4 linked regions of the Homo sapiens genome follow. The protein of the gene in region 1 purifies or fractionates together with the protein of each later gene. This does not show direct contact. Each region holds a gene or a part of one and is shown in the gene's direction. Other genes may lie near its edges. The genes, in order: PTPN2, COL5A1, KPNA5 and KPNA6.

Region 1 (8,018 bases):
AAAAACCTCCTACAATAAAACTGAAAAATTGCACAAAGACATATTAGTGGAAGACCACTGCTTCGTTTACACAAATGAAGAGTATAAAGCAGAGAAGTGCTCCTTGGGGCAAAAGGCAATTGGCAAAAAGCTAAGGAACATTTTCATAATGAGTTAGAAATACAGATCATCAGGAATATCCAGGAAGCGATAGTGAATACCAGGCAGGCTTAAGAGACAGGAAACATTTAGCATGTTGGTAAACCACTTTAGCACATCAGCAAAAGCATATAAACAGCTTTAGGATTGGAAATTATTGCCATGGGGAAAGGCAACAATTTAGAGGAGCAATTCCAATTAAAAATATAAAGATCGTTTCTTTAGATTAATTCTTGAGTTGCTCCCCTATGCCTGTGTAGCAGAATCTAAAAGATAATCATGTGAACGGGAGATTATATTTAAAAAATAAACTTTGAAATTCATAAAAAGGAAAATGTTAAAGAATGTAAAATTATACTGGTAGAAAAAAAATTTTTTTTTTTGAAGATGGAGTTTCACTCTTGTTGCCCAAGCTGGCGTGCAATGGCACGATCTCTGCTCACTGCAACCTCCACCTCCCAGGTTCAAGCAATTCTCCTGCCTCAGCCTCCCAAGTAGCTGAGATTACAGGCACGCGCCACCACGCCTGGCTAATTTTTTGTATTTTTAGTAGAAACGGGGTTTCACCATGTTGGCCAGGCTGGTCTCGAACTCCTGACCTCAAGTGATCTGCCCACCTCGGCCTCCCAAAGTGCTGGGATTACAGGCATGAGCCATTGCACCCGGCAGAAATTTTTTAAAATAGAAAAAAATAGCCCATTCATGATACATGAATTAAAGAAAATATTGGTAACATGTATGGTAACAGATTAGTAGCTGAGAACCCAAAGGCTGCCCCAGGTTGCTTCAAATCCTGGTTCTGCCATGTTCCAGCTGTGTGACCTTGGGCAAACTATCTTACCCTTTGTTTCAGTTTCCTCATCAGGAAAATGGGCTTTAATAGGATTATTGTGTGGATTGAGTTAATAAGTAAAGTGCTTAGAACAGGCCTCCAAAATAGTAAGTGTTGTATGCGTTAGCTATTATTAATACATCACAAATTTCCACTAAAGAAAATCTTCCCTAGTTTGTATATGGGATTGTCAGAAAACAAATGGAAAAATCATAGTATAAACAGCCTATATGGCTTTAAAGAATTATATAAAACACATGATCTTTCTGAAGTAGTTTTTTAAAAGAAAAAAGTTAGAACTAACTTCTCCCTTGATTTTCACTTTTTAGAGTGGTGAAACCAGAACAATATCTCACTTTCATTATACTACCTGGCCAGATTTTGGAGTCCCTGAATCACCAGCTTCATTTCTCAATTTCTTGTTTAAAGTGAGAGAATCTGGCTCCTTGAACCCTGACCATGGGCCTGCGGTGATCCACTGTAGTGCAGGCATTGGGCGCTCTGGCACCTTCTCTCTGGTAGACACTTGTCTTGTTTTGGTAAGTGCTTCTTACGATCTCATTTTAATCTCATTGATTTTTTTTTTTAAATTGCTTCCACTGGCAGTGAATAAACTCTGATGCTGTATCCCAGAACTGAGGTTTTTCAACTTAAACTTCTACTTTTGGAAAAACCTAAAAATCTCATTTCCACCGTTGCAACTGCCTCTTATTCATGACTGGTAGGAATGTATCCATGATGATTTTAGAGATCCCTAAGAAGGTGTTTTTCTTCCTGGTAGCTTTATATTACAGAAATAATAGGTCTCTCCCCCACATTTTTTCAAATATAAATTCATATGTAATATTGAATTCCTTCCTCCTCAGACAGATACTTTATCTCATTTTTTAAATTTAAAAACTAGGGATAATGATAGACATACTTCACAGGGTTCCTGTGAGAATTCAATGAATTAATACATTAAGGAGACTTAGAAGAGTCCCTGATGTTTTCTGAGCATTCCATAAATGTCAGTATTACTGTTACTCCCCTGAGGTTCCTGTCTGTGCCCCCAACGGCTAATTCTTTCTCCACCAGTCATTCCCAGTCCCAGCCTGTATACAGCCTAGATCTTTTCTTCTCTTTTTAGGACCTTTATTTTTTCGTTACTTGGGATACATGAAACTTCTGTTTGCCCTTATACTTCTCCTAACTTCTGTCTTTACTTCTTCCTCTTATTATAGGATCAAACCCAACAATAATACTGTCTGCTTTGATTTCCATGCCATCTACTCCTTCAGTAGTCCCTGCAGCTTAGTTTCTGCTTTCTGAGCGTGTTCTAAGATTATCAATAACCTAAGCAGTTTAGCTTGTCCTGGTATTCAGTCTGGTGGGGATTTTGTTTTTGTCTTTGTTTAGACAGAGTCTTGCCCTGTCACCCAGGCTGGAGTACAATGGTGCAATCACTGCTCACTGCAGCCTCAACCTCCTGGACTCAAGTGATCCTCCCACCTCAGCCTCCCAAGTAGCTGCCTGCACCACCACACCCAACTAGTTTTTGCTTTTTTATTTTTAGTAGAGACAAGGCCTCACTATCTTGGCCAGGCTAGTCTCAAATTCCTGGGCTCAAGTGATCTTCTTGCCTCAGCCTGCCAAAATGCTGGGATTACAGGTTTGAGCCACCACGCTTGACACAAGACTGGTGTTCTTAACCTTGACTTTAAGGCCCTGTATTAGTCTCTTCGATGTTTCTGTAAAACGTAGCTATGCTTCATTGCAGTTATGTCAGCATTCTTATGCTTTCCACCATGACTGCCAGCACAAAGTAGATTCCCAGGTGAATTAATATGATGATGCTTTTCATTGTAAACACACACACAAGGAGCTTGATCAATGGAGTGATACTCTTGGAAGGAGTGATACTCTTGGAAGAACATTTCAGACGTTGCATCTCTAATGAAAGCTAGGAATTGGGAACGGTTGAGTCTTAACTAAACATCTGTATTACTTTACCACTCTGCGTATATATAGTATACTTCAATCAAAATTAGATTGTTACATCAAAGTTTTAAAACTCTGGTGATTATTTTGTTAATGACACCTGTTCCCTGCCAACTATAACTTCAACAATTTTTTTTCTTTTATTTTTGGTGAGCCTGGGTGTGGGGATTCTAACACTAGGTCAGTAGTCCAGAGCAGTGCTGTAGCTCAGCAGTGTTATCGTGGATCTGGGCTTTTGCTGTCTTTTCCACCGTCTTTCTTCATTTTATTTTATTATTCTATTTATTTATTTATTTATTTATTTGAGACGAAGTTTCGCTCTGTTGCCAGGGTGGAGTGCAGTGGTGCAATCTCAGCTCACTGCAACCTCCGCCTCCCGGGTTCAAGAGATTCTCCTGCCTCAGCCTCCCGAGTAGCTGGGACTACAAGTGCGTACCACCATGCCCAGCTAATTTTTGTATTTTTAGTAGAGACGGGGTTTTACCATGTTGTCCAGGAAGGTCTCAATCTCTTGACCTCATAATCTGCCCACCTTGGCCTCCCAAAGTGCTGGGATTACAGGTGTGACCCACCACATTTTTATTTATTTATTTATTTATTTATTTATTTATTTATTTATTTATTTATTTTTGAGATGGAGTCTCGCTCTGTCGCCCAGGCTGGAGTATAGTGGCACTATCTGACCTCACTGCAACCGCCGCCTCCTGGGTTCAGGCGATTCTCCAGCCTCAGCCTCCAATGTAGCTGGGATTACAGACATGCGCCGCCACACCCAGCTAATTTTTGTATTTTTAGTAGAGATGGCATTTCGCGATGTTGGCCAGGCTGGTCTCTAGCTCCTGGCCTCAAGTGATTTGGCCTCCCAAAGTGTTGGGATTACAGGCATGAGCCATCATGCCTGGCCTCTTTTCCACCATTGTTAGATGGGTGCTGTATATCCAGACATCGTGTCTGTAGTGCAGACATGAAGGAGGCGGAAGGGGAATGAGCAGAAAGGTTGACTCCTGCCATGACTTTTAAAAAAAAAAATAGTCCTTATACTAGCCAGAACTGGTTATAAATCCTTCCTTTAACCAATGACTGGCCAGAAGGAATGAGATTACTATGATTGGTTTGGAATCAGTTGTGAATCAGCTAAAGAATCAAAGTCCTCCAACTACTTGAGGGGTTGAGATGTGGGGAGGGATGAGTAGGCTGGGATAGTTGTTGTGTACATAACAGTTATAGCTGGAGGGTTAAATTATCGTTGTTCTTTCAGAGGAGAAAATGCATAGCAAAAATCTTAGCAATGATCTTGCATTGATTCTGTTTCCTGGGTTCCAATAACAAGACTTGTCTCATTTTTTGCCTTTCTTGCAGATGGAAAAAGGAGATGATATTAACATAAAACAAGTGTTACTGAACATGAGAAAATACCGAATGGGTCTTATTCAGACCCCAGATCAACTGAGATTCTCATACATGGCTATAATAGAAGGAGCAAAATGTATAAAGGGAGATTCTAGTATACAGGTAAACTTCATACAGGTTTTAAATCATATCTATTTGTTAAATACACATAGCATCAAATAACTGCACTCCACTTGAGCCCTTGTCTTTGTTTCAAAGAGTGTATTTGAATTTTTGTGGTAAATCCAGCTGGCTGTCTTAAAATTGTAAAATTTTAGCTAGCTTCCTCATATATACTCAGCCTCAGGTTAAATCCTGTGTGTTACTTAAAAGCCCTTGTAGAAACAAGATTTCATTAAAGAAACTGAATTTTTCATTTTGGGGGTGGTTAATCTTTTAATTATTAAAGTAACTGGAAACTTGAGATACTTTTGCCTTCATTAAACACTGATACTTGGTTTATGTGATATTTGACTTTATAACAACAAGCAACTTGAATATTTATGGCAGATATAATGAAATTCCAGCAAAATGTTATATTCTTCTGGTTGGTGGCTTTATTCTCATTAAGCTATTTTTACTGCATATTTGTAGAACCTAAGTTCAAAGACTGATCAGAAACTTGTGTTATGTACTAAGTTAAAATGTAAAATAGAAACAACCACAGACTCCATTTTTTGTCTGGTTTAATCACATAGTATTGGACATAAGCAGATACTGTAAGTTGATGCATAATATAAGAAGATCGACTGTCTTTTCATTATGTTTCTCATGTGTGAACATATTTACTAGCACTTTCATTTCTCTGATTACTAGCCAATATAAGAATGTAAATTAGATCGGACCATTGGTGTCAGAATAAAGGTTTATTTAAAAAGATTTTTTCCAAATCTTTAAATAGCATTAAAATATTCTTAATGCACAGAAACATTAGGGCACTCAGAGCCAAAATACGCAATGTTTGGGAAACTCAGCCCATTAGAACATGTCCTGCTTCAGACGCCAGACTTTGGGAACACTGGATTTGCCAGGGTCACTTTGGCAGTGATCAGTGATTTAGGTGAAGTAAAAGTTATTTCAGATGTTTAAGATTAGGAAAATTTCCCTTTCTAATCACAGTGAGCTTTCACCAACTTAAATCTGGAGTTCAAAAAGAAAAGTAGTTCAATCAGATTTCCCCATGCCTTCACAGCCTGCATGCCGCCTTCCCTGCCTGCTTCCTGGCTGTGATGAGACGGGTAACTGGGAGGGAAATGTATTGTCCTTTGGATTGTGTCTTTCCTACCACTGCTTTTTTTTTTTTTAAGTTTTGTGTCTTTAGTTTTAGAATACATACTTTATCTGAGGGTGGATCTTTTTTTATCACAGAGATGAGTTTTTCTGGACACACTTTTTTGTGGAGTCTTTGACAGTGCAGTTTGTGGCTAGGAAGGATTTTTTTTCTGTTAATTTATCTGGTGTGATATTGTCCTCAGGCTCTCAATTCTAAGGCATTTTCTGCCCCTATTCCAGATAGGATATTGGAAACATCTTTATCCTTCAGGTACTCAGGATCAGAAAAGCATGCTGCCCATTCCAAGGGGTTAATTTCTGCAGAAATGGTCTTGGCATTCTGAGAATCTTTTTTAATTGGTGCATTTAGACCATCGGCATATGAAGTGATTACTGATAAAGTTGGATTAATAAATACATACCACACATGCTACTGGTTTTTTTTTCTTTTTTTGAGACGCAGTTTTGCTCTTGTTGCCCAGACTGGAGTGCAATGGCACAATCTCGGTTCACTGCAGCCTCTGCCTCCCAGGTTCAAGTGGTTCTCCCCACTCAGCCTTCCGAGTAGTTGGGATTACAGGTGCCTGCCACCACTCCTGGCTAATTTTGCATTTTTAGTAGAGATGGGGTTTCACAGTGTTGACCAGGCTGGTCTCGAACTCCTGACCTCAAGTGATCGCCCACCTCGGCGTCCCAAAGTGCTGAGATTACAGGCGTGAGCCACCGCACCCAGCCCAAAGTGATTGTATCTTAAGTCTGTAAATATGTGTAATTATAATCTTAAAGCATGTATTCATTTACAGAAAACTTCCAATGACTTTGACATTCCTATAGACATATAGGCTATTTGCAATTGCCTTTCAGCACAAGGTCAGGCATAAATACTTAAGCTGGTTGCTGGTATTACCACATATTTATTAGCATATTCCCAGTATTGATGATGACAGTTAACCCCCCAGAGTAAATATCTAGTTTGGCAATTCAGAACTAATGTTGTAAGATCTCTAGCTGGTAATTTGATATTACTAATAAAGTATTAAATGTAAATGATAAACTTTTAACAAATTACAGAGGATTTGAAGTTTAATTGCATTGCTTAAAGCTTTCTTCAGTGAGAGAAATGGGTAGAGCTAGGGTTCTAGGCATTGTGTGGGGGGCATGGCTCCTAGTGGCAGTGACTCATGGGTTGGTGCAACGTGAGCACAGAATTAGAAAGAAAGATGAAACAGTACCAGGCCTCAAAATGAGAGCTCCTTTGAGGTTATAGTTTAGTGAAATGTAATTCCTTGGCTTCACCAGTCAGCATTAATGACCTGAGGCAGGTGACTCAGGAGTGCTGGCTCCCTTGTGTGTCACAGGGAGGACAGAGACGAGTGAGTTTGCTGAACCTATATAGGCATGAGTGAGTTTGCTGAACATAGGCACGAGTGAGTCTGCTGATCATAGCCATGAATGAGTCTGTCGAACATAGCCATGAGTGAGTTTGCTGAACATAGCCATGGCAAAATGACATTGTTGGGTTTGTGGGGTTTTTTTAATTCACTAGCATTAAATATCTCTTTTATTTCTCTCTCTGCCGAGTGCTTTCCTTGTTGACGTATTCTGAATTTGTTGCATATTCTGGGAAGTGGTCCAGTGAGACTTGATTTTTGGTGTCATCTTATTTGTTGACATTGTTGAGTGTTGTCCAGCTATAAGGCCAAGTTACATAACTAGGTCTCAGTCAAGAGTGGAAACTTCAAAAATTGACCAGTGTAAATTCTGGAGACAATTTAACATTTTTGTGGGGTACTTTGTTGAACACACATCTTTATAAGGGGTCACAGCATAGTCAACCCAGACTTGCCTAGGTTAAAATTCTGTCTCTACTATTTGTTAGGTGCATATCCTTGGGCGAGTTACCTAATTATTCTCCCCACATCTTCCGTAAAAAGGGTGTAATAATGGTAATATTAGTATTAGTGCTTATCTCCTAAGGTTATTGTGAGGATTAAGAGCTAGCACATTTGAAGTGTTAGAATATGGCATGGAGAGTAGCAAGTACTCCATGTCTTCACTATAAAAGATTTGGATTGAGTAACAAAACAAACAAGGGAACAAAGAAAATAGACAGTCATCTAAGTGAAGACATCCTTAATTACTCCTGTGTTCCATTATATTGTAGTTTCTTGATTGTTGGCACAGTATTCTTTCGGGGACATGGTTTGCGCCCTCTTAGGGCTCAGGATTTTCAGTTCTACCCCACTACTCATGAAGTCCAGAGACCTCTTTCCCGGAGGTCTATTTCCTTTCCAGCCTCATCTCTCCTACTCAAGCTTTGCGTGTTTTCCATCCTCTAGACAAATTGTACCAAACTGTACTACTAACTGTTCTCCAAACACAACAAACTGTAGAATTTCACATTTTC
Region 2 (7,104 bases), on another chromosome or scaffold:
TGTGCGCATGCACACGCTTGTGGGGGTGCATACACGTGTGTGTACCTCTCTGTGTGTACACAGAGATGAGAAGTACTCATTTCTGTGGGCATGGCTGGTTTATTCCTATGAAGGGCATTTTGAAATGTAGGCAGATGCTTGTGAAATGGAACTGGGAACTCTGACTGTCCATTTGTGACAGCCTTTTGCAGAATTTCCAGACGATGCCCCACCAGCAAAGCCCCTGCCTCCTCCAAGACTCAGCTCTGGTGGAGATCATCTATTCCTTAAATAACTGGTGTTTCTAAGCTTGCAGTTTCCATTTCAGCCGAATTATTTTCTCAAATGGGTCCTCTCCATTTGATCTGATTGGTTTTGGAGCCCAGACTCCATGAGCGTCATGGACCCAGTCGTGTGTGTGTGTGTGCCTGTGTGTGTGAGCTCCTGTGTGCACATCGGTGCATGTGTGTGTGCCTGCATGCTGGGTGGGACAGCATTTGCCTGACTGCAAAAGCACCTCTCCCAGTTCCCCTGGACAAGAGGGAAGACAGAGTGTACATCCATGCACTTGAGCCCCCTGTGCACCGTTTCCAGAGCTTTCTTTCTGACATCAATCAGGCCATTAAATTGGAAGACGCCTTCCACCGCTGCTCATTTTTTATGATACAGAAATTAAAGAGGAATATGCCCTGCTGAGACCACAGGGTGATGGTGTGCGGCTTCTGCTCAGAGAGGCGGTGTTTTCCTTGGTGTCCCCGCTGTAGGGCGCATGTTTCTGTTCACCTGCTGCCACTGTGCATGCCCTCTTCCCTGCGTCCCTCTGGCCTGTGTCCCTGAGGACTGCGTGCCTGTCCTCCTGCCTCGGCCCTGGCCATCCCCCACCTGGAGTGCCATCCTAGCCACTTACCAGCTTCTCATAGTTGCCCTCCACAACCCTTGGAGCAGCGCTCCGGGAAAGCCTTCACAGACAGTGTTGCTTGCAGTCTGGACACTCTGCCCTGTATCCATCACGTGCCTGCCACATTCCTCACGCACCTCCAATTCTGGGAGTGTGTGGGGACAGCACTCCCCAGAAACCCCTGGGTCCTGGGTGCCCAGGGGCAGGCAGACAGCAGGCAGGATTTGGCAAATGCTTGAAACCGTAGCACTGCGTTCATCGCGGTGCTCACCGCTGCCATAACCACATGCACTGTCTCCCTAGGGCGAGCCTGGCGAAGCAGGTGAGCCTGGCCTTCCGGGAGAAGGCGGCCCCCCGGTGAGTGAGCGGGCGCTGCGGGAGGGGTGGGATATGGCCGAGCGGGTGTGTGGACGGGGTGCTGGGTTGGAGGCTCTGGCTCTGCCTTAGCTTTTCCATCCACGAAATGGGAGTTGTAACCCCTCTTGTGCCCATTTCATGGAATGACCGTGAACAAGGTGTGTGATGTGGGAGTCAGCATGTACACGCAGACCTAGCAATAGCTACCTGTGCCCAGTGGCCTGCAGTAACTCTACCCTCTGTAGTGTTTGCTCCTGGCCCCTTCGCGGGGCAGCTGCTGTCACCTCGTCCCCCCGGACCTTGAGGGCCAGACTAGGAATATCCAGGCCTTCTCAGGCCAGATGAATGTTCACTATGAGGCCAGCCCAAAGGTGGCTTTCAGGCCCAGGACCAGCTGGGTGGACTCGGGTCTTCTGGTTCTAGCTGCTCCCTCCCCATGAGATCCGTGGAGTCTGTGGGCACCCCTTGTGGTCTTCACTGACTGATGTCTGGTCCAGGAGTCAGTCCCTCCCACCCAGAGCTGAATCTCAGGCTTTGAGGGCCCCAGAAAGTGAAGGCTCCTCAGGTCCCCCTCAGGGTGCACACAGGAGCTGATTCTGCCCAGGGCTTGGGGAGCGACCTGGCAGCCAGCCCCCTGCAGGGCTCAGCAGATACTTGGAAAGGCTGGTCTGAATGGGGTGAGAAAACCGGGGAGGCCCACCTTGCTCTGGGCGGCGACGTGGTTGGCTCTGAGGACTTGACACTGGCCTCTTTCCTCCAGGGACCCAAAGGAGAAAGGGGAGAGAAGGGCGAGTCAGGCCCTTCAGGTGCTGCCGGACCCCCTGGACCCAAAGGCCCTCCCGGAGATGATGGTCCCAAAGGCAGCCCTGTGAGTATTCCAGACACACCTCAGGGGCCCTGCAGCAGGGGCGGGGCTCTGCACTGGGATCATTCTGACTCACTGGCGGTGCACTCTGCTCTGAGAACAGCTTCAAGACCATTCCATGTGTTGGGTAAATTTTCTAGACACTAGAGGTTTTCATACCAGCTACTGAACCAAAATAGTGGAGATGAGACAGGGCGTGGACTGGAGGAGAAAGCCCTGAGTGATTCTTCTCTGTGGGCCAGGCGGCCGGCTGAGATGCACGAGTGACAGCCAGGCTTTGGGAAGTTGCCCCCGCCCTTGGCCGGCCCTGATTTTGCATCAGGAGGGGCTTCGGAGAGGCACATTCCGGAAGTCTGAAGGTCCAGGTTCTAGTTGCAGCCTGGAGCTCCCAGGAATAGACCTGTGGGCGGAACGCCTGCCCCTTGCTTGGCTCTGGAAAGCAAGAGACCAGCTGACCCCTGCCATGCCCACTGGCCAGGCTTGCTGGCTCTGGGACATGCTGCACGTGGAAGGGTCTCTGGGCCATAAAGTGCACTGGGTTGTCGGAACTGCTGGAAAGTCTTAGGAGCTGGACGGTGGCAGGTGGCCATCTTGAGGTGGTGACATGATTGGCCGTGTGTGGTCTCAGTCAGGTTGCTGATGGCCTTGGCTGCTTCCTTCTTTCTTCCTTTCAGGGCCCAGTGGGTTTTCCTGGAGATCCTGGCCCCCCCGGAGAGCCTGGCCCCGCGGTAGGTGCTCAAGAGGGCAAAGCCACCGGATCCCCCACAGTGCTGGCCTGCCTCTGCCAGCCCCATTTCCCCTCTTTCTGGTGGTTCTTTGTGATGAACTCCCACTGGGGCAGGCAATGTCCCAAAAGGCACTCGTGTTCCGGTGATCAGAGCAAGAAAACGCCTTTGACCCCACTGACCATGCTCTGTGCTGGCACCAGAATGGATTTGGGTTTTGGGAAGGGGCTGGAGATGCATTGGGAACTGGTGCATGAACTCAGGGTGCCATCCGGGGTTCAGCAAGGAGCTCGCTTTTGCCTCCATAGGGTCAAGATGGTCCCCCTGGTGACAAAGGAGATGATGGTGAACCCGGGCAGACGGTGAGTCCACAATCTGGGCTGGCTTCCTGGTGGAGGTGTCAGTGTATTCTTGGGACCTTGCAGCTTGCTTGACTCATTTCTGGGAAAAACTCCAACCTAGTTGATATTGATTCCTTTATGATATCGATTCCCTTATGATATTGATTCCCTTATGATGTTGATTCCCTTATGATATTGATTCTGGACAGTGACAGAGCTCATGAACTCCCTCTGAGATGCACGTGCTGTCTCAGCAGCAGGTTTGCAGGCAGCCCCAGGGCTTCCACGACCCACCATGGGCTCGCCCGGGAACGTCAGATCTTACCCACAGCTCTGCCTAGCAGGGCCAGTGCCTCTCCTCACCAGGCCCTTCCTGCCTTACCTTGACCGAGATCACACTGGACGTTGCATCTGACGCTTGGCGTTGAGTGTTTTAAACACCGCTTCAAGCCCAGAACGTCTTTCTGGGACGGATCGACCCCCATGGGCCCTGGGCAGGACTGGGCCTGGAGGAGGCCCCTGAGGCCTTGCAGATGCCCTTGCCCCACCTTGCACCCAGCCTGGCCAAGCGCGGGGGACTGCGGACCTGAGGGCAAAGGCCATGTCACTGAGTTGAGAGGAGCGTCCACTCAGAGAAGGGGTTAGGGATCTAGCCTCGGGCTGGATTTCCCTGACAGACACCCCCAGTCCACCACTTCCCGGCCTGTGTCCTGGGACGATTCTTGTCCCCCCTTCTGTGAAAGGGGATGCCAGTGCCTCGTCCCTGCCCAGGTTGTGGTGGGGACCGAACCGTCATTGTGTATCAAGAGTCAGCACTGTGAGTGGGGAAGTTCTCTTCCAAAATGCAGAAAACCCGCAGGATGGGAGTTGGGGTTCCTTACGCTGTCACAGCCCGGGTGCGACACTGTCTTAGGACCCTCTGTGCTAGCCCCAAAAGAAGAGAGAGGCGGCCGCAGGGCTGGCCGAGGAGTAAATAGACTGAAATCGCCATGTGTTTTGCCTCAATTGAGTCTAACGGGCCCCAATTCCTCACACTCTGTTCTTTCTCCCAATACCAGGGATCCCCCGGCCCTACTGGTGAACCAGGTCCATCGGGGCCTCCAGGAAAAAGGGTAAATAATCCTGCAGGCACATCCTTGCTGTCAAATCCCTGCATGAAACACCCCCGCCCCTCCCCGTCACCTTTGCTTGGGCCCTGGGTGCTCTAAGCTGCACTGATGAGGAAGGGCTCGGGTGTGGCATGTTCTCCACTTAGCCTCGGCCACATCATCACCTAATCACAGGCTTGCCAGGTCGACGCAGCTGCTCCTTTTAGGACAGGCCGCCTGCTGACACGGTCAGTGATATCCATGGTGGGAGAAAGACACCCGCAAAGCTGCAAAGGTCCTTTTCCCCTGGCTCAGGTTTTACTGAAAAGCCAGAACAAATGAGAAGGCATCTTTTGCAGATTGAATGGTCCAGCCACTTGCTGGTGGGGCAGTAAACAGCTGCCTGGTGCACCCAGGACGGAGGCCACACACAACTCGCGGCGTGCACTGCGCCTCCCCACGTGGCCTGAGAGGCCTTTACCTGGGACTGGAGTCCATAGGACTCATGCTGAGGACCCGTGTCACTGCGGGTGGCCCGGGAGCAGCCTCCATGACCCTGCACCCCTGCCCTGCAGCCCGGCACACCCTGAGCACCTGCACCCGAGCTCGTCCCTCTGCCCCTGCAGGCCACACACACACACACCCTGAGCGCCTGCACCCGAGCTCGTCCCTCCACCCCTGCAGGCCACACTCACCACCTGCTGTTCTCTTGCTTCTTTCAGGGTCCCCCAGGCCCCGCAGGCCCCGAAGGCAGACAGGGAGAGAAAGGGGCCAAGGTAACGTGTTTTGGAGCCAGGCTGTGACCGCGTAGACCTCCCCCAGGGGAGCCCAGAGGGTGGGGAGTGGACAAGCGTGTGGGCAGAGATGTCCATGGAGGCTGAGAGTGGCTGCCCCAGGGGCACCTGGCTCATGGCCTACCTGGGGAGGAGACCTGGTTCTCTCTCAAGGAGGCAGCCAAGTGGTGGCCACAAGACTGGGGCCGTCTGCCTTGCCCACCTGAGGGAGGAGGCGGGTGGTGGGTGCGGGATTCAGGGAGCCCAAGGCTGAGTAGTTATGTCCCCCGGAGCCCTGCGACCTCATGCCTGGTCTTTGAGTCGGCCAGACCTGAGCCGCCTACCTCTGAAGTGGACCGTGTCCGATGGTGACCGTGTCTGCTGCGGGGCCCGTGCAGAAGATGGGACGCCGTCACCCATGCAGTTGGCTTGGGGCCTGGCCCAGAGCACACGGGAGGCTATTCTGTCAGTGAGGTGATGGCGGCCCGGCCTGGCACTGTCTGCCTCCCTCCTGGAGGCGCCTGTTGTTAAGGAGACGGGAGGTTGTGCGGTTCCATCCCTGCTCGGGCAGTGGCGCTGTGACACCCGGTCTGTGGTCGGCGCAGTCAGCGGAGACGGGATCCCTGCTGGCCTGGGAGATGATCGGGATGGAGACTTGACCAGGGCAGCTTCCACAGGCAATGAAATGTGGAGAATTAGGGCAACCCCGGATATGGGGTCACCTGGGACTCCTCCAGAGGTGCCCAGGGTTTCCGAGCAGTGGTCCTGGGCCAGGGTGCCTGGAGCCTAGAGCTCCGGACCTCATTCTGCCCTCCGCCGTCCTGCAGGGAGAAGCCGGCTTGGAAGGCCCTCCTGGGAAGACTGGCCCCATCGGCCCCCAGGGGGCCCCTGGGAAGCCCGGACCGGATGGCCTTCGAGGGATCCCTGGCCCTGTGGTGAGTAGGCTGTGAGGGGCAGAGGGGTTGCCGAGTGGAGGGACGGGGGACCAGCAACTCATGCAGAGCGTCTCTGTGTTTCAGGGAGAACAAGGTCTCCCAGGATCCCCAGGCCCGGACGGTCCCCCCGGCCCCATGGTGAGTCACATTCCTCATGGTGAGCATAGCGGGTGGGATGACTTCGCCACCCAAAGCCCCAAGGATGAGGACTCTGATCCCCCTGCCTCCTCCCACAGGGTCCCCCAGGACTTCCCGGCCTCAAAGGAGATTCTGGTCCCAAAGGTGAAAAGGTAAGAGGGGCCTCCCTGCCCCAGCAACTGTGACTCGGGGCCTTCAAATTTGTGGCCGTGGGTCTCAAACTCAACAAGCTCTTGATCCGTCACCTAAATGTGTCAAGCACCTGCTGCAGGCTGGTGGTGGGGAACCTGAGGGGTGACAAAGGAAAATAGACACGCTGTGTTTGAGGCTTGGCCCCTGCCTCTGGGGGGTCCTGAGCAGCTCGGGAGATCCCGGAGGCCCCTGCGGTATTGACGGAGAACCTTCCAGCTAGGCACAGAGGCCCCGGCTGATGGGTGTCCAGGATCCCAGGTTGCTGCTCTCCCTGGGCTGAGCGGCCCCAGATCCTTTCCGCAGGAGGTGTGAGGACATTTCTGCAGTGGGAGCAAAGCCCTTTTATTTTTCTAACTGCTGGGAATTGTTTTCCACTTGCATTGATTTATTTACAAACATAAAAGGTACTCAGGAGTGAGATGGTTGTATATGAAGCAGAAGGCAGTGAGGGCCCTCTCATTTCCACTCTGACGTCCGCCACCACTGCCCCCAGCCCCAAGGCAAATGAGAGCTGGGGCTGCCTTGCGAGGCTTGCCCTGGGTTCCTAGAAGACAAACATAGACAGCGAGTGTCATGGATTCTTCTTTTTTTAGAAAAACAACCCATGATTGTAATATCTATAATACTCTGCATCTTTCTTTCCGTGTCAGTCCACAAACTTTGTTTTAGTTCCGTATAGGAGCAGGCGTTCGGATTTGCCATAGGAAATTGGAGAGCGTATACGAAGAGAAAGACAGAGATAAACATTACCACTCAGGAAAACCCCTTTATCACTTTGGTCTGTCTCAGTGTCTGTGGCTCCCTGTCTGTTTT
Region 3 (8,018 bases), on another chromosome or scaffold:
GTAAGTCTTACACATCTAATCTCTACTAAATCTACCTCTATCTTGAAGCAGAAATAAAAACAAAAAAGCTTCAGAAGCATGAAATAATGCAAATGCTAAATTAGAATGTGAAAATATTTATTACCTTAAATTATACATATCACTGTGCTGTAGGTTATACTTTGCAAAAAATTGCAACAGAAAACCTATAAAATTTATTTATAAAACAGAAGAAATATTATACTGATAATCCATTAAAATGTGGCAATTGTGAAGGGAGAAGCTGTTTTTCATGTTGAACACATTAAAAAGATTACTTTATAAAATGTTTAAATATTTCTGTTTTTAACATATAAGTGCTATGTATATTAGTATATTTTGTATTTCAACCAAATATGCTACCATTTTTGAAATAGTGTTTTATTGTTTTTCACTCATTGTTTTAAAGAGCATCATGACAGAGATGTCATCATGAATCTAAAGTAGTGCTGCATATCTAAAATAATAACTAATTATTTCTCTGATTTTTCAGAGCAGTAATTGAAAAGTTTCATTTTCTGTATAATAGTACTAGTTTAAGTTTAAGTACAAGTACAAGTTTAGGTACTCGAATGACAAAATTACCCTGAAGAAATAACCTTATTATGTGTTAAATTGTATTAAATGCATTTAACATTTGGATGCTAAATGATAATGAAAATTGCTAAAGGTTCTTTAATATGGTTCAAATCTATAAGACTTTTTTCTTTTAGTAATACTCAGAGGGTCATTCTGCTGCTTGTTATGAATCATAGATTACATTCATGTCAGATTGATCAATATGTATGTTTTATGATTTAACAGCAAAAACCTCTTCAAACGGAAAATTTGAAAGAAAGGTTTCAATAGAAAAATTATATATATATTTATACATATATATGTGTGTGTGTTACTCTCACAGTTCAACTACTGTTGAACTCAATCTTTTAATTTATAGTTATACGTAGGCTATTTATGTGTCCAATTGTATACCTAGAATACTTACTTAAAACTTAGTTTACAACTCTTTTTAAGATGAGAACTAAGGCAATTTTGATATGATTCATGGTCTATTCTTTAAAAAAAGATTTCATTTATGATAGTATTTGTAATGTTTCTGCTGGAAATCAGAGGCACGTTCCAAGAGGAAAATGTATATAGGAGTACTTTTAAAGAATATGTCACTTTGTAAATTACATATCATGAAACTAAGCTTTTGACAAGATACTTAAAACCTACAGCTGTAAAATACAGGTTTAAATGGTGTTCGTAATGCTGAGTGCATCTGCCAGCCCTTTTTTATTATTAAGTAGAAGATTGTATCTGTGCCCCTTTTTTCGTAGTGGAAGGTATATAGCCGAGTATAAAATGGTTTTCTTTTGCATTATCTGTATTCAAAAAACAGGGTAGTTATATTAAAGCTTACCAAATTGATGGTGAATTTATCAGATTAACCTTTTTGTGGTGCAGATGGTTCTAAGTATCAGGTGACAGGGTATTCTACTCTTTCTAGTCAATTAAAATTGATAATGCAGCATGATTCATAAACTAACCAGCTGTGCCTCCTTTTATTTTGAGGACCCTGTAGTCACTATAATAAATTTCTAAGCCAAATTTTTCAAACAAGATAGTTCTTATAGAAGGAGAAATAATAAATATGTGTGTGTTGATGCATGCACACAGAATGACCTGTGAAAGGAAACTTAAATTTTGCCGGTAAAACAAACATATCTCTACAGACTGTGATTATACTTCATAAGCATTTAAATACAGTTTTATTTATTTCCTTAAATATATTACTTGGGTAATTAATTTTAGATTTGATTGCAAAGAGCACTGTATAGCAGTTGGGACCAGCTCTTGGCTTGGCTTGGCTTGGCTTATTGTTAAGAGTTTATTGGATCAAGACTAACAAATAACTTTGTGATGAAAATTCTTCAAAAATATAGCTACTCTTTTCAAGTATACCATTTAAAATATTTCATCAGGCAGAGCCCTGACCAGGAAAAAAAAAAAAAAAGAAAGAAAGAAAAGAAAAAAATAAATAAAATGCTCCAAAAAGTGTTTTCAGTAGTCTTCACTGGCCCTTGTGGGAGGAAAAATACTTTTTTAACTTGCTTTTCTAAGATTTGTTATATTTAAATCCAAGAGAAACTATGCCGAAAAAAAGTGTTATAAAGAGGAATGCATGTAGCATTAATGCAAATATCAAGAAAATACTTGAAAGAGTCCTTTTCATTTATTTAATTAAATTTGGTGTTTTATTTTGTCTGAATCTGAATTTCTCCTATTTAATCTATGCAATTATGCTTGTTTTATATTTATAAGCACTTGACTCACTGGGTGTGGTCTTTTTACTGTGTTTTATTTCAAAACGTTGTTTTAAGTGATAGTGTCCTTAAATTTTAGTGTCATTTGGTCAACTTACTGGTAACACCAGAACAAGAAAGCAAAAAAGTAATAAATTCTGCTGGCACAGAACTAACATATCATTTGGTAACTGTAAAACCTATTTGCAGTTAAAGGTTGATTTATTGGATAAGGGACTAAAAGAAGCATATATTACCTTTGCCTTTATATTTTTTCTTCTTTTAAGAAGGAGCATTATGGAAAAATAAATATAAAGTCTTAGTGAATTTTTGTTATGGTTCTCAATTCAGCAATCTACTGGCTGCTTGCGAAACTGTGAAATCAAATTGTTCTTAACCTTTATTCAGTTTAGTTTATAGCATTACTGTTTTATGAAATGTGACATTTTAGGAGCCAATATAATAGAGCTCTAAAAGGATAGTATATCTTTAAATTCTGACTGGGGAGTAAGAAGAGAAGATATTCTTACCCTACTAAATAAACCAACTTTTGAGTAGTATGCAATATTATGAAATGTTACAACACTATATTAAAAATAATAAAATATTTTAAAATTGCATTTATATAAATGTGTCCATTTCATTTTTTCTTAAGATTGTTGTTTCCTAACAGAACAAAGACAGATGCTATTATTGGTTAAAAATCCATTTACTTTCTAAAACTAACAAAGGAGAAAAAATAGAATTATAAAAAATAGCTAATCCAAAACTAGACAGAAAAAGAGAAAAAACAAATGAAGATGGAACAAATAGCAAGAAAGATCAAACTCAGTTATATCAGTAGTCACAGTAATTACTAATGATTTAAACATGCCAATTAAAGTGCAGAGGTTATCAGTTTTAATAAAAAAGTAAGGCCGTATTTTGCCTCTAAGAAAATGTTTTCAAGAAGCAAATTGGTGAAAAGGGTGGAAAAAAGATATACCATGCTATCACAAATCAAAAGTAAGTTGGGGTGGCCATATAATGCATATCAAGGTGCATTTCAGAGCAAGGAATATTTATTGCTGGAGATAAAGAGGGTCATTTGATAAAGGGATCAATTCATGATAGTCAAAATGTAGAAACAAATGTTCATCAGCCAATGGATAAATAAAATGTTATATTCATAAAATGGGATATTACTCAGTAATAAAATGAAATATGGATATATGGTACAACATGGATGAACATTGAAAACATTAGGCTAAGTGAAAGAAACCAGATTCCATTTATATGAAGTGTTCGGAATAGACAAATCTATAGAAACAGAAATAAATTAGTATCTAGGACTGGGGAAAGTTGGAAATGGGAGGTGACTGGGTACAAAGTTTCTTCTTTGAGCAATAAAAATAGGATTTTCTAATAAATTCAGAGATGTGCTGCCATCACCATAAGCAAAAGTTCACTTTTTTACTGGCACTAGCCATATTTCAAGTGCTCAGTAGGGAGTGCAGGGCTACAGTATGTTTTTTAAATCACGTGAGAGTAACACAAAGTTTTAAATGCATATTTTACACCCCAAAGCAACCAATTCTTGTTCTTGGAGTTAGCTGAGCTTCCTAGGATCCATGGATTTATAGTTTTCATCAAATTTGAAAACACAGCAATTATTTAAACATTTTTTCATTTCCAATTCCGCTTATATTAGTCTGCCTGAAATACTCACACAGCTTATTAATGCTTTGCTCATTTTTGGTTATTTTTCATTTTGTATAGTTTTCATTGTTTCGTCTTCAAGTTCACTAATCTTGTCTTCTGCTGTGTCTAATCTCTTAATTCCATTAGTGTATTTTTTATGTCAGACATTGTGTATTTTATCTTTAAAAATTCAATTTGGATCTGTTTTATATCTTCCATTTTTTTTATCATACTCAAGCTTTCCTCTGCTGGCTTGAACACAGCAAGTATAATAGCTGTTTGAATGGCCTTGCTACTAATTCTGTCATTTCTTGCTCTGTTTCTGTTTATTGATTTTTTTATTATGAGTTGTATTTTTCATTTGCATGCGTTTACATGTTTGGATATTGAATTTCCCATATTTGTTCTTCTTAACACAAGTTACTAGGGGAAAAAATGTGATCCTTTAAAGGCTTGCTTTTAAACTTTGTAAGGCAGGCACAGAACAACGTTTATTTTACTGCTGAGTCAGTACCATTCCGAGTACTCTATTACCCTATGAATTACAAGGGATTTTCACTTTGGCTAGTGGAACTTAAACTGTTCCTGATCATTGTGGGCTCCAAAAATTGTTTCCCCTTGTGCTTTCAGGTGATTCTTTAGAAGGCCTTGGGTAGTAGTCACATGTGGTCAATAGTACTTGGCTGAAGACTCAAAGGGGAATCCTCTGCAGATAATCTGGAGCAATCTGTGTAGTTTTGTCACATTTGGTACTCTACCTTGTGAACTCTAGTTTTGTCCTCCCTGGCTTCCTAACTCTTTCTCCCCATCTCAGAGACTTTGTGGCTATACCTGAATTTCCCTTCCTTGCCCTGCAATCGTGAAACTCTAGGCAGTAAGAGACAGAGCAGTCATAGGGCTCAACTAGTTTGTTTCCTCTGTTTCATAGATCACGGTTCCTCATTATCTGATGTCTAATGTCTGGAAACTGTTGTTTCATGTTTTTGTCCTGGTCCCTATTACTCTAGTTTGGCTTAAAGCAGAAGTTAGCATACCAATCTATGTTCTTTTTAAAATCTCTGTTTAATGTGGGCTTTGATCATTTTTCATATTGTTTTCTTGGTGCCTTTTTGTCTCAATCACTTTCGCTGAATTCAGTTATAGTGATTATAGTCTTTTTACTTATTTCCTTAGTTTTTGCTCATAATTTTAGAATTTCCAATCTTTTATTCTCTTTGGATTTATTCTTAAGTCTTTCCCTAATTTCCCTAAACATTTAAGGTTGTTAAATGTTTAATTTGGGAAGGCTAAAAATTTACCTTGAAGTACCATTTCAGCTGCATTCCACAAGTTATTCAGCTCTAAGTATTTTAAAGTTTATATTATGATTTATTCGTGACCTATGAAAATTGACAGACCGTTAGCAAGACTAATAAAGAAGAAAAGAGAGAAGAATCAAATAGACGCAATAAAAAATGATAAAGGGGATATCACCACCGATCCCACAGAAATACAAACTACCATCAGAGAATACTATAAACACCTCTACGCAAATATACTAGAAAATCTAGAAGAAATGGATAAATTCCTCGACACATAAACCCTCCCAAGACTAAACCAGGAAGAAGTTGAATCTCTGAATAGACCAATAACAGGATCTGAAATTGTGGCAATAATCAATAGCTTACCAACAAAAAGAGTCCAGGACCAGATGGATTCACAGCTGAATTCTACCAGAGGTACAAGGAGGAACTGGTACCATTCCTTCTGAAACTATTCCAATCAATAGAAAAAGAGGGAATCCTCCCTAACTCATTTTCTGAGGCCAGCATCATCCTGATACCAAAGCTGGGCAGAGACACAACCAAAAAAGAGAATTTTAGACCAATATCCTTGGTGAACATTGATGCAAAAATCCTCAATAAAATACTGGCAAACCGAATCCAGCAGCACATCAAAAAGCTTATCCACCATGATCAAGTGGGCTTCATCCCTGGGATGCAAGGCTGGTTCAATATACGCAAATCAATAAATGTAATCCAGCATATAAACAGAACCAAAGACAAAAAACACATGATTATCTCAACAAATGCAGAAAAGGCCTTCGACAAAATTCAACAACGCTTCATGCTAAAAAACTCTCAATAAATTAGGTATTGATGGGACGTATCTCCAAATAATAAGAGCTATCTATGACAAACCCACAGCCAATATCATACTGAATGGGCAAAAACTGGAAGCATTCCCTTTGAAAACTGGCACAAGACAGGGATGCCCTCTCTCACCACTCCTATTCAACATAGTGTTGGAAGTTCTGGCCAGGGCAATTAGGCAGGAGAAGGAAATAAAGGGTATTCAATTAGGAAAAGAGGAAATCAAATTGTCCCTGTTTGCAGATGACATGATTGTATATCTAGAAAACCCCATTGTCTAAGCCCAAAATCTCCTTAAGCTGATAAGCAACTTCAGCAAAGTCTCAGGATACAAAATCAATGTACAAAAATCACAAGAATTCTTATACACCAATAACAGACAAACAGCCAAATCATGAGTGAACTCCCATTCACAATTGCTTCAAAGAGAATAAAATACTTAGGAATCCAACTTACAAGGGACGTGAAGGACCTCTTCAAGGAGAACTACAAACCACTGCTCAATGAAATAAAAGAGGATACAAAGAAATGGAAGAACATTCCATGCTCATGGGTAGGAAGAATCAATATCGTGAAAATGGCCATACTGCCCAAGGTAATTTATAGATTCAATGCCATCCCCATCAAGCTACCAATGCCTTTCTTCACAGAATTGCAAAAAACTACTTTAAAGTTCATATGGAACCAAAAAAGAGCCCGCATCGCCAAGTCAATCCTAAGCCAAAAGAACACAGCTGGAAGCATCACGCTACCTGACTTCAAACTATACTATAAGGCGACAGTAACCAAAACAGCATGGTACCAGTACCAAAACAGATATAGATCAATGGAACAGAACAGAGCCATCAGAAATAATGCCGCATATCTACAACTATCTGATCTTTGACAAACCTGAGAAAAACAAGCAATGGGGAAAGGATTCCCTATTTAATAAATGGTGCTGGGAAAACTGGCTAGCCATATGTAGAAAGCTGAAACTGTATCCCTTCCTTACACCTTATACAAAAATTAATTCAAGATGGATTAAAGACTTAAACATTAGACCAAAAACCATAAAAACCCTAGAAGAAAACCTAGGCATTACCATTCAGGACATAGGGATGGGCAAGGACTTCATGTCTAAAACACCAAAAGCAATGGCAACAAAAGCCAAAATTGACAAATGGGATGTAATTGAACTAAAGAGCTTCTGCACAGCAAAAGAAACTACCATCAGAGTGAACAGGCAACCTACAAAATGGGAGAAAATTTTCACAACCTACTCATCTGACAAAGGGCTAATATCCAGAATCTACAATGAACTCAAACAAATTTACAAGAAAAAAACAACCCCATCAAAAAGTGGGTGAAGGACATGAACAGACACTTCTCAAAAGAAGACATTTATGCAGCCAAAAAACACATGAAAAAATGCTCACCATCACTGGCCATCAGACAAATGCAAATCAAAACCACAATGAGATACCATCTCACACCAGTCAGAATGGCAATCATTAAAAAGTCAGGAAACAACAGGTGCTGGAGAGGATGTGGAGAAATAGGAACACTTTTACACTGTTGGTGGGACTGTAAACTAGTTCAAGCATTGTGGAAGTCAGTTTGGCGATTCCTCAGTGATCTAGAACTAGAAATACCATTTGACCCAGCCATCCCATTACTGGGTATATACCCAAAGGAATATAAATCATGCTGCTATAAAGACACATGCACACATATGTTTATTGCAGCACTATTCACGATAGCAAAGACTTGGAATCAACCCAAATGTCCAACAATGATAGACTGGATTAAGAAAATGTGGCACATATACACCATGGAATACTATGCAGCCATAAAAAATGATGAGTTCATGTCCTTTGTAGGGACATGGATGAAATTGGAAATCATCCTTCTCAGTAAG
Region 4 (8,018 bases), on another chromosome or scaffold:
TGGGGACTAAATAAGATAACAGCATTTGGGCTGGGCAAGGTGGCTCAGGCCTATAATCCCATAGGCCGAGGCGGGTGGATCACCTGAGGTCAGGAGGACGACACCAACCTGACCAATAAGGTGAAACCCTGTCTCTACTAAAAATACAAAAATTAGCTGGGTATGGTGGCGTGCTCCTGTAATCCCAGCTACTTGGGAGGCTGAGAAGGGAGAATTGCTTGAACCCGGGAGGCGGAGGTTGCAGTGAGCCGAGATCATGCCAGCCTGGGCAACAAGCTAGACTCCCTCTCAAAAACAAACAAATAAACAAACAAAAAACAGATAACAGTGTTTGGAGCCTAAAGGGCTCCATGAATATCAGAACAGATTCTTTTCCACTTTCAATAATGTTCCTTTCCCTTAAGCACTCTGGTTTCCAGGTTTCCCTATTGAGTAATAAGACTGATAGGCCTTTCTTAGTAGCTGGAGCTTCATCTTTCAGTGAAAAAAATTTAGGGGGTTTTATGTTATAAACTTTGTTATAAATTTTATATTGGTCTTCAGTTTCAGAAACACTGTTGCCTCAAAGGGAAGGAACTAATGTTTAATAAGCTCAGTGAAATAAGTAGAGATTTACTCAGTTTTATAGATTGGGAAACTGTCTCGGAGAAGATAACACAGCCAGTAAGCCACAAAGCCAGGAGTAAGATTCTTACCCATTTTGCAGCACATAAATCTATAAGACTTAAGAAGTTAAGAAATAAAGTTAGTCCTATTCTGGTACAGTTCAACATGAAAGTTCTTCAGTGGAGCAACAAACCCTGACCAAGGTCTTGAAGGGGGTTTTTAGCCTAGAGTCAGGTAACTTCCTCTTTCCAGCTCCATCTCAGGTACCTCTCCCTCATCGTAGCTTGTCTTTATGAATGTCAGCTTTTTGTTTGTTGTAGACCAAACTAATGCATTCATTTAATTCTAACATCTAATCTAAGGTATCTTGGGTTATCTCCATTTACACTTATAAACTGAGGCTTTGAGAAGATTAGGTGACTAGTCCAAGGCTGGTATTCTGGATCCTTTGGGCACTGGAGACACTAACACAGCCTGCCTTCACATGCCCACAAGTACGGAACCTGCCGTATTTCACTGCCTCTTAAGTGTACTCTCAGTCTGTATCCTACTAGCTCAGTCGTATATCCTACACTATTTCTACTATGCCAAACTTCATTACCCTTAACAGACCTTTGCAGTGATTTCCCTGCCACTAGGTGCCCTGTAGGGGTGATATTTGTAGCTCTGGAGATTGCTTTATTCTGACCCTCTAGCAGAGACTACAACCTCATGAGTCTTGGCAGACACTACTTGTCTTTTCACCATTACTACTACTGTGCTAACTGGGAATCTGGCCACCCTTCCTTACCCCAAGGGGTGGGTCTTGATATAAACTCTAAACCAATCATTGTAACTCTAGCTCCCTAGACAGTGATTGATTTAGGCATGGGCATATGATGCAGTTCTTGCTAATTAGATGGGAAGGGAAGCCTGGGGAACTTGTGGAGAAGCCTTCCTTATTTAAAAGAGACTTGCCAGCTTTTATTTTATTATTTTTTGCCAGTTTGTATTTTAACCCAGGTTGCACCAAAATGTGTGAACCACAAACAAAGACAGAGATGGGAAAGCTATAATAATAATAATACCCAACACTTGTATAGAACTTGCTATGTGCTAGGTACTCTTCTAAGTAGAGGCATACCTCAGAGCTAAGGCAAGTTTGGTTCCAGACCACTGCAATAAAGCAAATATAATAAAGCAAGTCACATGAATTTTTCTGTTTTCCAATGCATATAAAAGTTATCTTTATACTATACTGTAGTCTCTTAAGTGTGCAATAATATGTAGAGTAAAAGTACCTCTTTTATTTATTTATTTATTTATTTGAGACAGGCTGGCCCTGTCTGTCACCCAGGCTGGAGTGCAATGGCGTGATCTCGGCTCACTGCAACCTCCGCTTCCTGGGTTCAAACCATTCTCCTGCCTCAGCCTCCTGAGTAGCTGGGATTACAGGTGCCCACCACCACACCCAGCTAATTTTTGTATTTTTAGTAGAGACGGAGTTTTACCATGTTGGACAGGCTGGTCTTGAACTCCTGACCTCATGATCTGCCTGCCTCAGCCTCCCAAAGTGCTGGGATTATAGGCATGCATGAGCCACCATGCCCAGCCAAAAGTACATATCTTAATTAAGAAATCCTTATTGTGAAAAATTGCCATTTGGTGAGCTGTAATCTTTGCTGGTGGAGGGTCTTACCTTGATGTTGATGGCTGCTGAGACTGATCAGGGTGGTGATTGTCTGGGGTGGCAGTAACAACCTATGAAATTTGCCACATCAATTGATTCTTCCTTTCACCACAGATTTCTCTGTAATGTGATACTGTTTGATAACATTTCTCTCTGCCATAGACCTTTCAAAATTAGAGTCAGTACTCTCAAACCCTGCCACTGCTTTATCAACTAAGTTTATGTAATGTTCTAAATCTGCCGGTCTTGGTGGCTCACGCCTATGATGCCAGCACTTTGAGAGGATGAGGTGGGAGGACTGCTTGAGCTCAAGAGTTTCAGACCAGCCTGGGCAACATAGTGAGACCCCATCTCTAAAAAAACATTTAAAAAATTAGCTGGGTGTGGTGGCGCGTGACTGTAGTCCCAGCTACTCAGGAAACTGAAGTGGGAGAATCACTTGAACCTGGGAGGTTGAGGTTGCAGTGAGATGATTGTGCCATTGCACACCAGCCTGGGCGACAGAGCAAGATCTTGTCTCAAAAAAACCCCAAAAATCCTTTGTTGTCATTTCATGTATGTGTGTATGTATGTATGTATATATGTTTTTTTTATTTATTAAGACAGGGTCTCACTCTGTCACACAGGCTGGAATGCAGTGGTGCTATCAACAGCTCACTACAGCCTTGAATTCCCAGGCTCAAGCAATCCTCCTACTTCAGCCTCCCGAGTAGCTGGGACTACAGGCATGCACCACCATGCCCGGCTAATTTTTTAAATTGTTTTTAAAGAGTGTTGCCTAAGCCTGTCTTGAACTGGGCTCAAGTGATCTTCCTGCCTTAGCCTCCCAAAGTGTTGGGATTACAGGTGTGAGCCACCTTGCCCAGCCTATTGTCTTATCAACAGGATTAACGGCATTTTCACAAGGAGTAGATTCCATCTCAAGAAACCATTTGTTTGCCCACCCGTAAGAATAGCTGCTCATCCATTCAAGTTTGATCGTGAGATTGCAGCAATTCAATCATATTTTCAGTTGTCTAGTTATCACATTTTCACTTCTAGTTATCTTGCTGTTTCCACCCCATCTGCAGTAACTTGCTCCATTGAAGTCTTGAACCTCTTAAAGTCATCCGTGAGGGTTGGTATCAACTTCTTCCAAACTCTTATTTATGATATTTTGACTTCTTATGAATCGTGAATGTTTTTATAAGACCTGAAAGTTGAAATCACTCCTTAATTCATACAGAATGGATGGATTCTGTATAGCTACAGAATGGATGTTGTATTAACAGGTGGGAAAACAACATTAGGCCGGCGCAATGGCTCACACCTGTAACCCCAGCAATTTGGGAGGCCGAGGCGGGCAGACCACTTGAGGTCAGGAGTTCGAGACCAGCCTGGCCAATGTGGTGAAACCTTGTCTCTACTAGAAATACAAAAAATTAGCCTGGTGTGGTGGTGCACACCTATAATCCCAGCTACTGTGGAGGCTGAGGCAAGAGAATTGTTTGAACCTGGGAGGTGGAGGTTGCAGTGAGCTGAGATCACGCCACAGCACTCCAGCCTGGGCGACAAGAACGAAACTCTGTCTCAAAAAAAAAAATATATATATATATATATATATTCAGTAAATCAAGCTGTAAACAGATGTGCTGTCATCCAGGCTTTATTCCATTTATAAAGCATAAACACAGTGGATTCAGCATACGTTTTAAGCTTCTGAGATTTTCAGAATAGTAATTGAGCATTGACTTCAACTTAAAGGCCCCAGCTGCATTAGCCCATAACAAGAGAGTCAGCCTGTCATTTGAAGCTTTGAAGCCAGGCATTGACTTCTCTCTAGCTATGAAAGTCCTAGATGACATCTTCCTCCAATGGAAAGCTGTTTCTTCTACATTGAAAATCTGTTGGCTAGTGTAGCCACTTTCATTAATGATCTTAGCTTGATCTTCTGGATAACTTGCTGTAGCTTCTGCATCAGCACATGCTGCTTCACCTTGCACTTTTTTGAGACAGTGTCTCACTCTGTCACCCAGACTGGAGTGCAGTGGCACGATCTCGCCTCACTGCAGCCTCTGTCTCCCGGGTTCAAGTAATTATGGTGCCTCAGTCTCCTAAGTAGCTGGGATTATAGGTGTGTGCCACCACGCCCAGAACATTTATGTATTTTTATAGAGACAGTGTTTCGCCGTGTTGGCCAGGCTGGTCTCGAACTCCTGACCTCAAGTGATCCGCCCACCTCAGCCTCCCAAAGTGCTGGGATTATAGGCATGAGCCACCACACCCGGCTTCACTTTTTTTTTTGAGACGGAGTTTCTCTCTGTTGCCCAGGCTGGAATGCAGTGGCGCGACCTCAGCTCACTACAAGCTCGGCCTCCCGGGTTCACGCCATTCTCCTGCCTCAGCCTCCCGAGTAGCTGGGACCACAGGCGCCCGCTACCACGCCCGGCTAATTTTTTTTTGTATTTTTAGTAGAGATGGGATTTCACCATGTTAGCCAGGATGGTCTCGATCTCCTGACCTCGTGATCCGCCCATCTCAACCTTCCAAAGTGCTGGGATTACAAGGCGTGAGCCACTGTGCCCAACTTTTTTTTTTAAGATAGGGTTTTTGTCTGTCACCCAGGCTGGGGTGCAGTGGCAAGATAGCACACTGCAACCTCTAATTCCTGGGCTCAAGGGATCCCCCCACGTCAGCCTTCTAAGTAGCTGGGGACTACAGGTGTGTGCCACCACACTCAGCCAATTTTAAATTTTTGTGAGACAGTGTGTCACCATGTTGCCCAGGCTGGTCTTCAAGTCCTGTCCTCAAGTGATCCTTATTCCTCAGCCTCCAAAGCCACTGGGATTACAAGCATGAGTCACTGAGTTTGGCCTCCACATTGATGGCTTCTTTCCTTAAACCCTTTCTTTTTGAGACGGAGTCTCACTGTCGCCCAGGCTGGAGTGCAGTGCCATGATCTCAGCTCACTGCAACCTCTTCCTCCCAGATTCAAGCGATTCTCCTGCCTCAGCCTCCCAGGTAGCCAGGATAACAGGTGCCCGCCACCACATCTGGCTAATTTTTGTATTTTTAGTAGAGATGGGGTTTCACCATGTTGGCCAAGTTGGTCTCGAACTCCTGACCTCAGGTGATCCACCTGCCTCAGCCTCCCAAAGTCTTGGGATTACAGGCATAAGCCACTGCGCTCGGCTCCTTAAACCTTATGAACCAGTCTCGTTAGAGCCTGGCTCTGGATTAGGCTTTGGTTTAAGGCAGTATTGTGGCTGATTTGATCTTCTGTCAAAACCACTAAAAGTTTATCCATATTGGCAATAAGGCTGTTTTTTCTTTTCTTTTCTTTTTTTTTTTTTTGAGACAGAGGCTGGAGTGCAGTGGCCCTATCTTGGCTCACTGCAAGCTCCGCCTCCCGGGTTCATGCCATTCTCCTGCCTCAGCCTCCTGAGTAGCGCCCGGCCGGTTGTTTTTTTTAAACATTTGTGTGTTCACTGGACTAGTACTTTTCATTTCCTTCAAGATCTTTTCCTGGCCAGGTGCAGTGGCTCATGCCTGTAATCCTAGCACTTTGGGAGGCCCAGGCAGGCGGATCACCTGAGGTCAGGAGTTCAAGATCAGCCTGACTAACATGGAGAAACCCTGTCTCTACTAAAAATACAAAATTAGCCGGGTGTGGTGGCACATGCCTGCAATTCTAGCTATTTGGGAGGCTGAGGCAGAAGAATCGCTTGAACCCAGGAGGTGGAGGTTTCGGTGAGCTGAGATCGCACCATTACACTCCAGACTTGGAAACTCCTTCACAACAAAAAAAAAGAACTTTTCCTTTGCATTCACAGCTTTGCTAACTGGCGCAAGAGGCTTAGCTTTCACCATATCTTGGCTTTTTGACATGCCTTCCTCACTAAGCTTAATCATTTCTAGCTTTTGACTTAATGTGGAGACATGCAACTGCCCCTTTCACTTGAACAAATAGAGGCCATTGTAGGGTTATTAATTAGCCTCATTTCAATATTGTTGTATCTCAGGGAATAGGGTGGGAGAGAGACTGTGGAATGGCTTGTTGGTGGAGCAGTCAGATCATACACAGTATTTATCAGTTAAGTTCTCCATCTTATATGACCATGGCTCATGGCACCCCAAAACAGTTGCAATACTAGCATCAAATATCACTGATCACAGATCACCATAACAGATAAAACAAAAAACAAAAGTTTGAAATATTACGAGAATTACCAAAATGTGGCACAAAGTGAACACATGCTGCTGGAAAAATGGCACCAGTAGACTTGCTTAACATAGGATTGCCACAAACCTTCAATTTGTTTTTTTTTGTTTTTTTTTTTTGAGACGGAGTTTCACTCTGTCACCCAGGCTGGAGTGCAGTGGCACGATCTTGGCTCACTGCAACCTCCACCCTCCGGGTTCAAATGATTCTCCTTCGTCAGCCTCCTGAGTAGCTGGGACTACAGGCGCCTGCCACCACGCCCGGCTAACTTTTTGTATTTTTAGTAGAGATGGGGTTTTACCATCTTGGCCAGGCTGGTCTTGAACTCCTGACCTTGTGATCCACCCGCCTCGGCCTCCCAAAGTGCTGGGATTACAGGCGTGAGCCACTGCGCCCGGCCCAATTTGTTTTTTTTTTTTTAAAAAAAACACACATTGGCTGGGTATGCTGGCTGACGCCTATAATCCCAGCACTTTGGGAGGCTAAGGCAGGTGAAACTCTTGAGCTCAGCAGTTTGAGACCAGCCTGGGCAACATAGTGAGACCCTGTCTCAAGACAAAAACAATAACAACAATAAAAAAACACACAGTATCGGTGAATCACAGTAAAATGAGATATGCCTGTACTTTATATATTCATTTAATTCTCAGATTCTCATGTTTTAGTTGAGAAAACCAAAGGATGGAGAGGTTTCAGTAACTTGGGCAAATTCATAGCTAATACATGGAAGAGACGCTTACTCAGTATGATTCTAATCAAAATATGGGCTGTTTGTACATAAGCATTCCTGAAGTAGCTAAAGCAATCTCTTCCCCACCCATCTTTTCCTATAGAAATCTCACCTGTTTTTCTTTTCTTTTTTTTAATTTGATATGGAGTTTCGCTCTTGTTGCCCAGGCTGGAGTGCAGTGGCACAATCTCCGCTCACCGCAACCTCTGCCTCCCAGTTCAAACTATTCTCCTGCCTCAGCCTCCTGAGTAACTGGGATTACAGGCATGCACCACCATGCCCAGCTAATTGTTTGTATTTTTAGTAGAGACGGGGTTTCACCATGTTGGTCAGGCTGGTCTCGAACTCCCAACCTCAGGTGATCCTCCCGCCTCAGCCTCCCAAAGTGCTGAGATTATAGACGTGAGCCACCGTGCCCAGCCATCTCACCTGTTTTTCAAGATATACTTTAAATACTGCCTTCTTCATGAACCTTTCTGAAGTACTTTATGCCTTCCAGTTTGGAAATGAACTCTCCTAAATTCTATAGCACTTTGTTCTTACTTTTTTTTTTTTTAAATGGAGTCTCGCTTTTTCTCCCAGGCTGGGGTGCAGTGGTGTGCGCTTTTCACATCCTTTTTTCTATTACAGTTGTTTTATTCCATGTTATTAGTTTTTTGACCAGTTACTTACTCTACATAGCCTCATTTTCTTATCTTTAAAATAGGTATAGGTTAGGTGCGGTAGCTCACACTTGTATTCCTAGCACTTTGGGAGGCTCAGGAAGGAGGATTGGTTGAGGCAAGGAGTTCCAGACCAGTCTGGGCAACATG

Evidence for each region.
Region 2: the proteins of PTPN2 (region 1) and COL5A1 purify together in Homo sapiens (affinity purification with mass spectrometry; 3 studies listed by BioGRID and IntAct, with this or other methods). This does not show direct contact.
Region 3: the proteins of PTPN2 (region 1) and KPNA5 purify together in Homo sapiens (affinity purification with mass spectrometry, with the first as the bait; 2 studies listed by BioGRID). This does not show direct contact.
Region 4: the proteins of PTPN2 (region 1) and KPNA6 purify together in Homo sapiens (affinity purification with mass spectrometry; 3 studies listed by BioGRID and IntAct, with this or other methods). This does not show direct contact.

Annotation. Positions count from the first base shown.
Region 1 is NC_000018.10:12,810,647-12,818,664, reverse strand, and holds part of PTPN2 (tyrosine-protein phosphatase non-receptor type 2), read left to right. Parts: intron 1-1,299; coding exon 1,300-1,509; intron 1,510-4,309; coding exon 4,310-4,462; intron 4,463-8,018. UniProt on the Homo sapiens protein: Non-receptor type tyrosine-specific phosphatase that dephosphorylates receptor protein tyrosine kinases including INSR, EGFR, CSF1R, PDGFR.
Region 2 is NC_000009.12:134,812,803-134,819,906, forward strand, and holds part of COL5A1 (collagen alpha-1(V) chain isoform 1 preproprotein), read left to right. Parts: intron 1-1,180; coding exon 1,181-1,234; intron 1,235-1,994; coding exon 1,995-2,102; intron 2,103-2,773; coding exon 2,774-2,827; intron 2,828-3,132; coding exon 3,133-3,186; intron 3,187-4,223; coding exon 4,224-4,277; intron 4,278-4,975; coding exon 4,976-5,029; intron 5,030-5,853; coding exon 5,854-5,961; intron 5,962-6,045; coding exon 6,046-6,099; intron 6,100-6,197; coding exon 6,198-6,251; intron 6,252-6,612; exon of another isoform or gene 6,613-7,104. UniProt on the Homo sapiens protein: Type V collagen is a member of group I collagen (fibrillar forming collagen). It is a minor connective tissue component of nearly ubiquitous distribution. Type V collagen binds to DNA, heparan sulfate, thrombospondin, heparin, and insulin.
Region 3 is NC_000006.12:116,732,715-116,740,732, forward strand, and holds part of KPNA5 (importin subunit alpha-6), read left to right. Parts: 3' UTR 1-8,018. UniProt on the Homo sapiens protein: Functions in nuclear protein import as an adapter protein for nuclear receptor KPNB1. Binds specifically and directly to substrates containing either a simple or bipartite NLS motif.
Region 4 is NC_000001.11:32,110,596-32,118,613, forward strand, and holds part of KPNA6 (importin subunit alpha-7), read left to right. Parts: intron 1-8,018. UniProt on the Homo sapiens protein: Functions in nuclear protein import as an adapter protein for nuclear receptor KPNB1. Binds specifically and directly to substrates containing either a simple or bipartite NLS motif.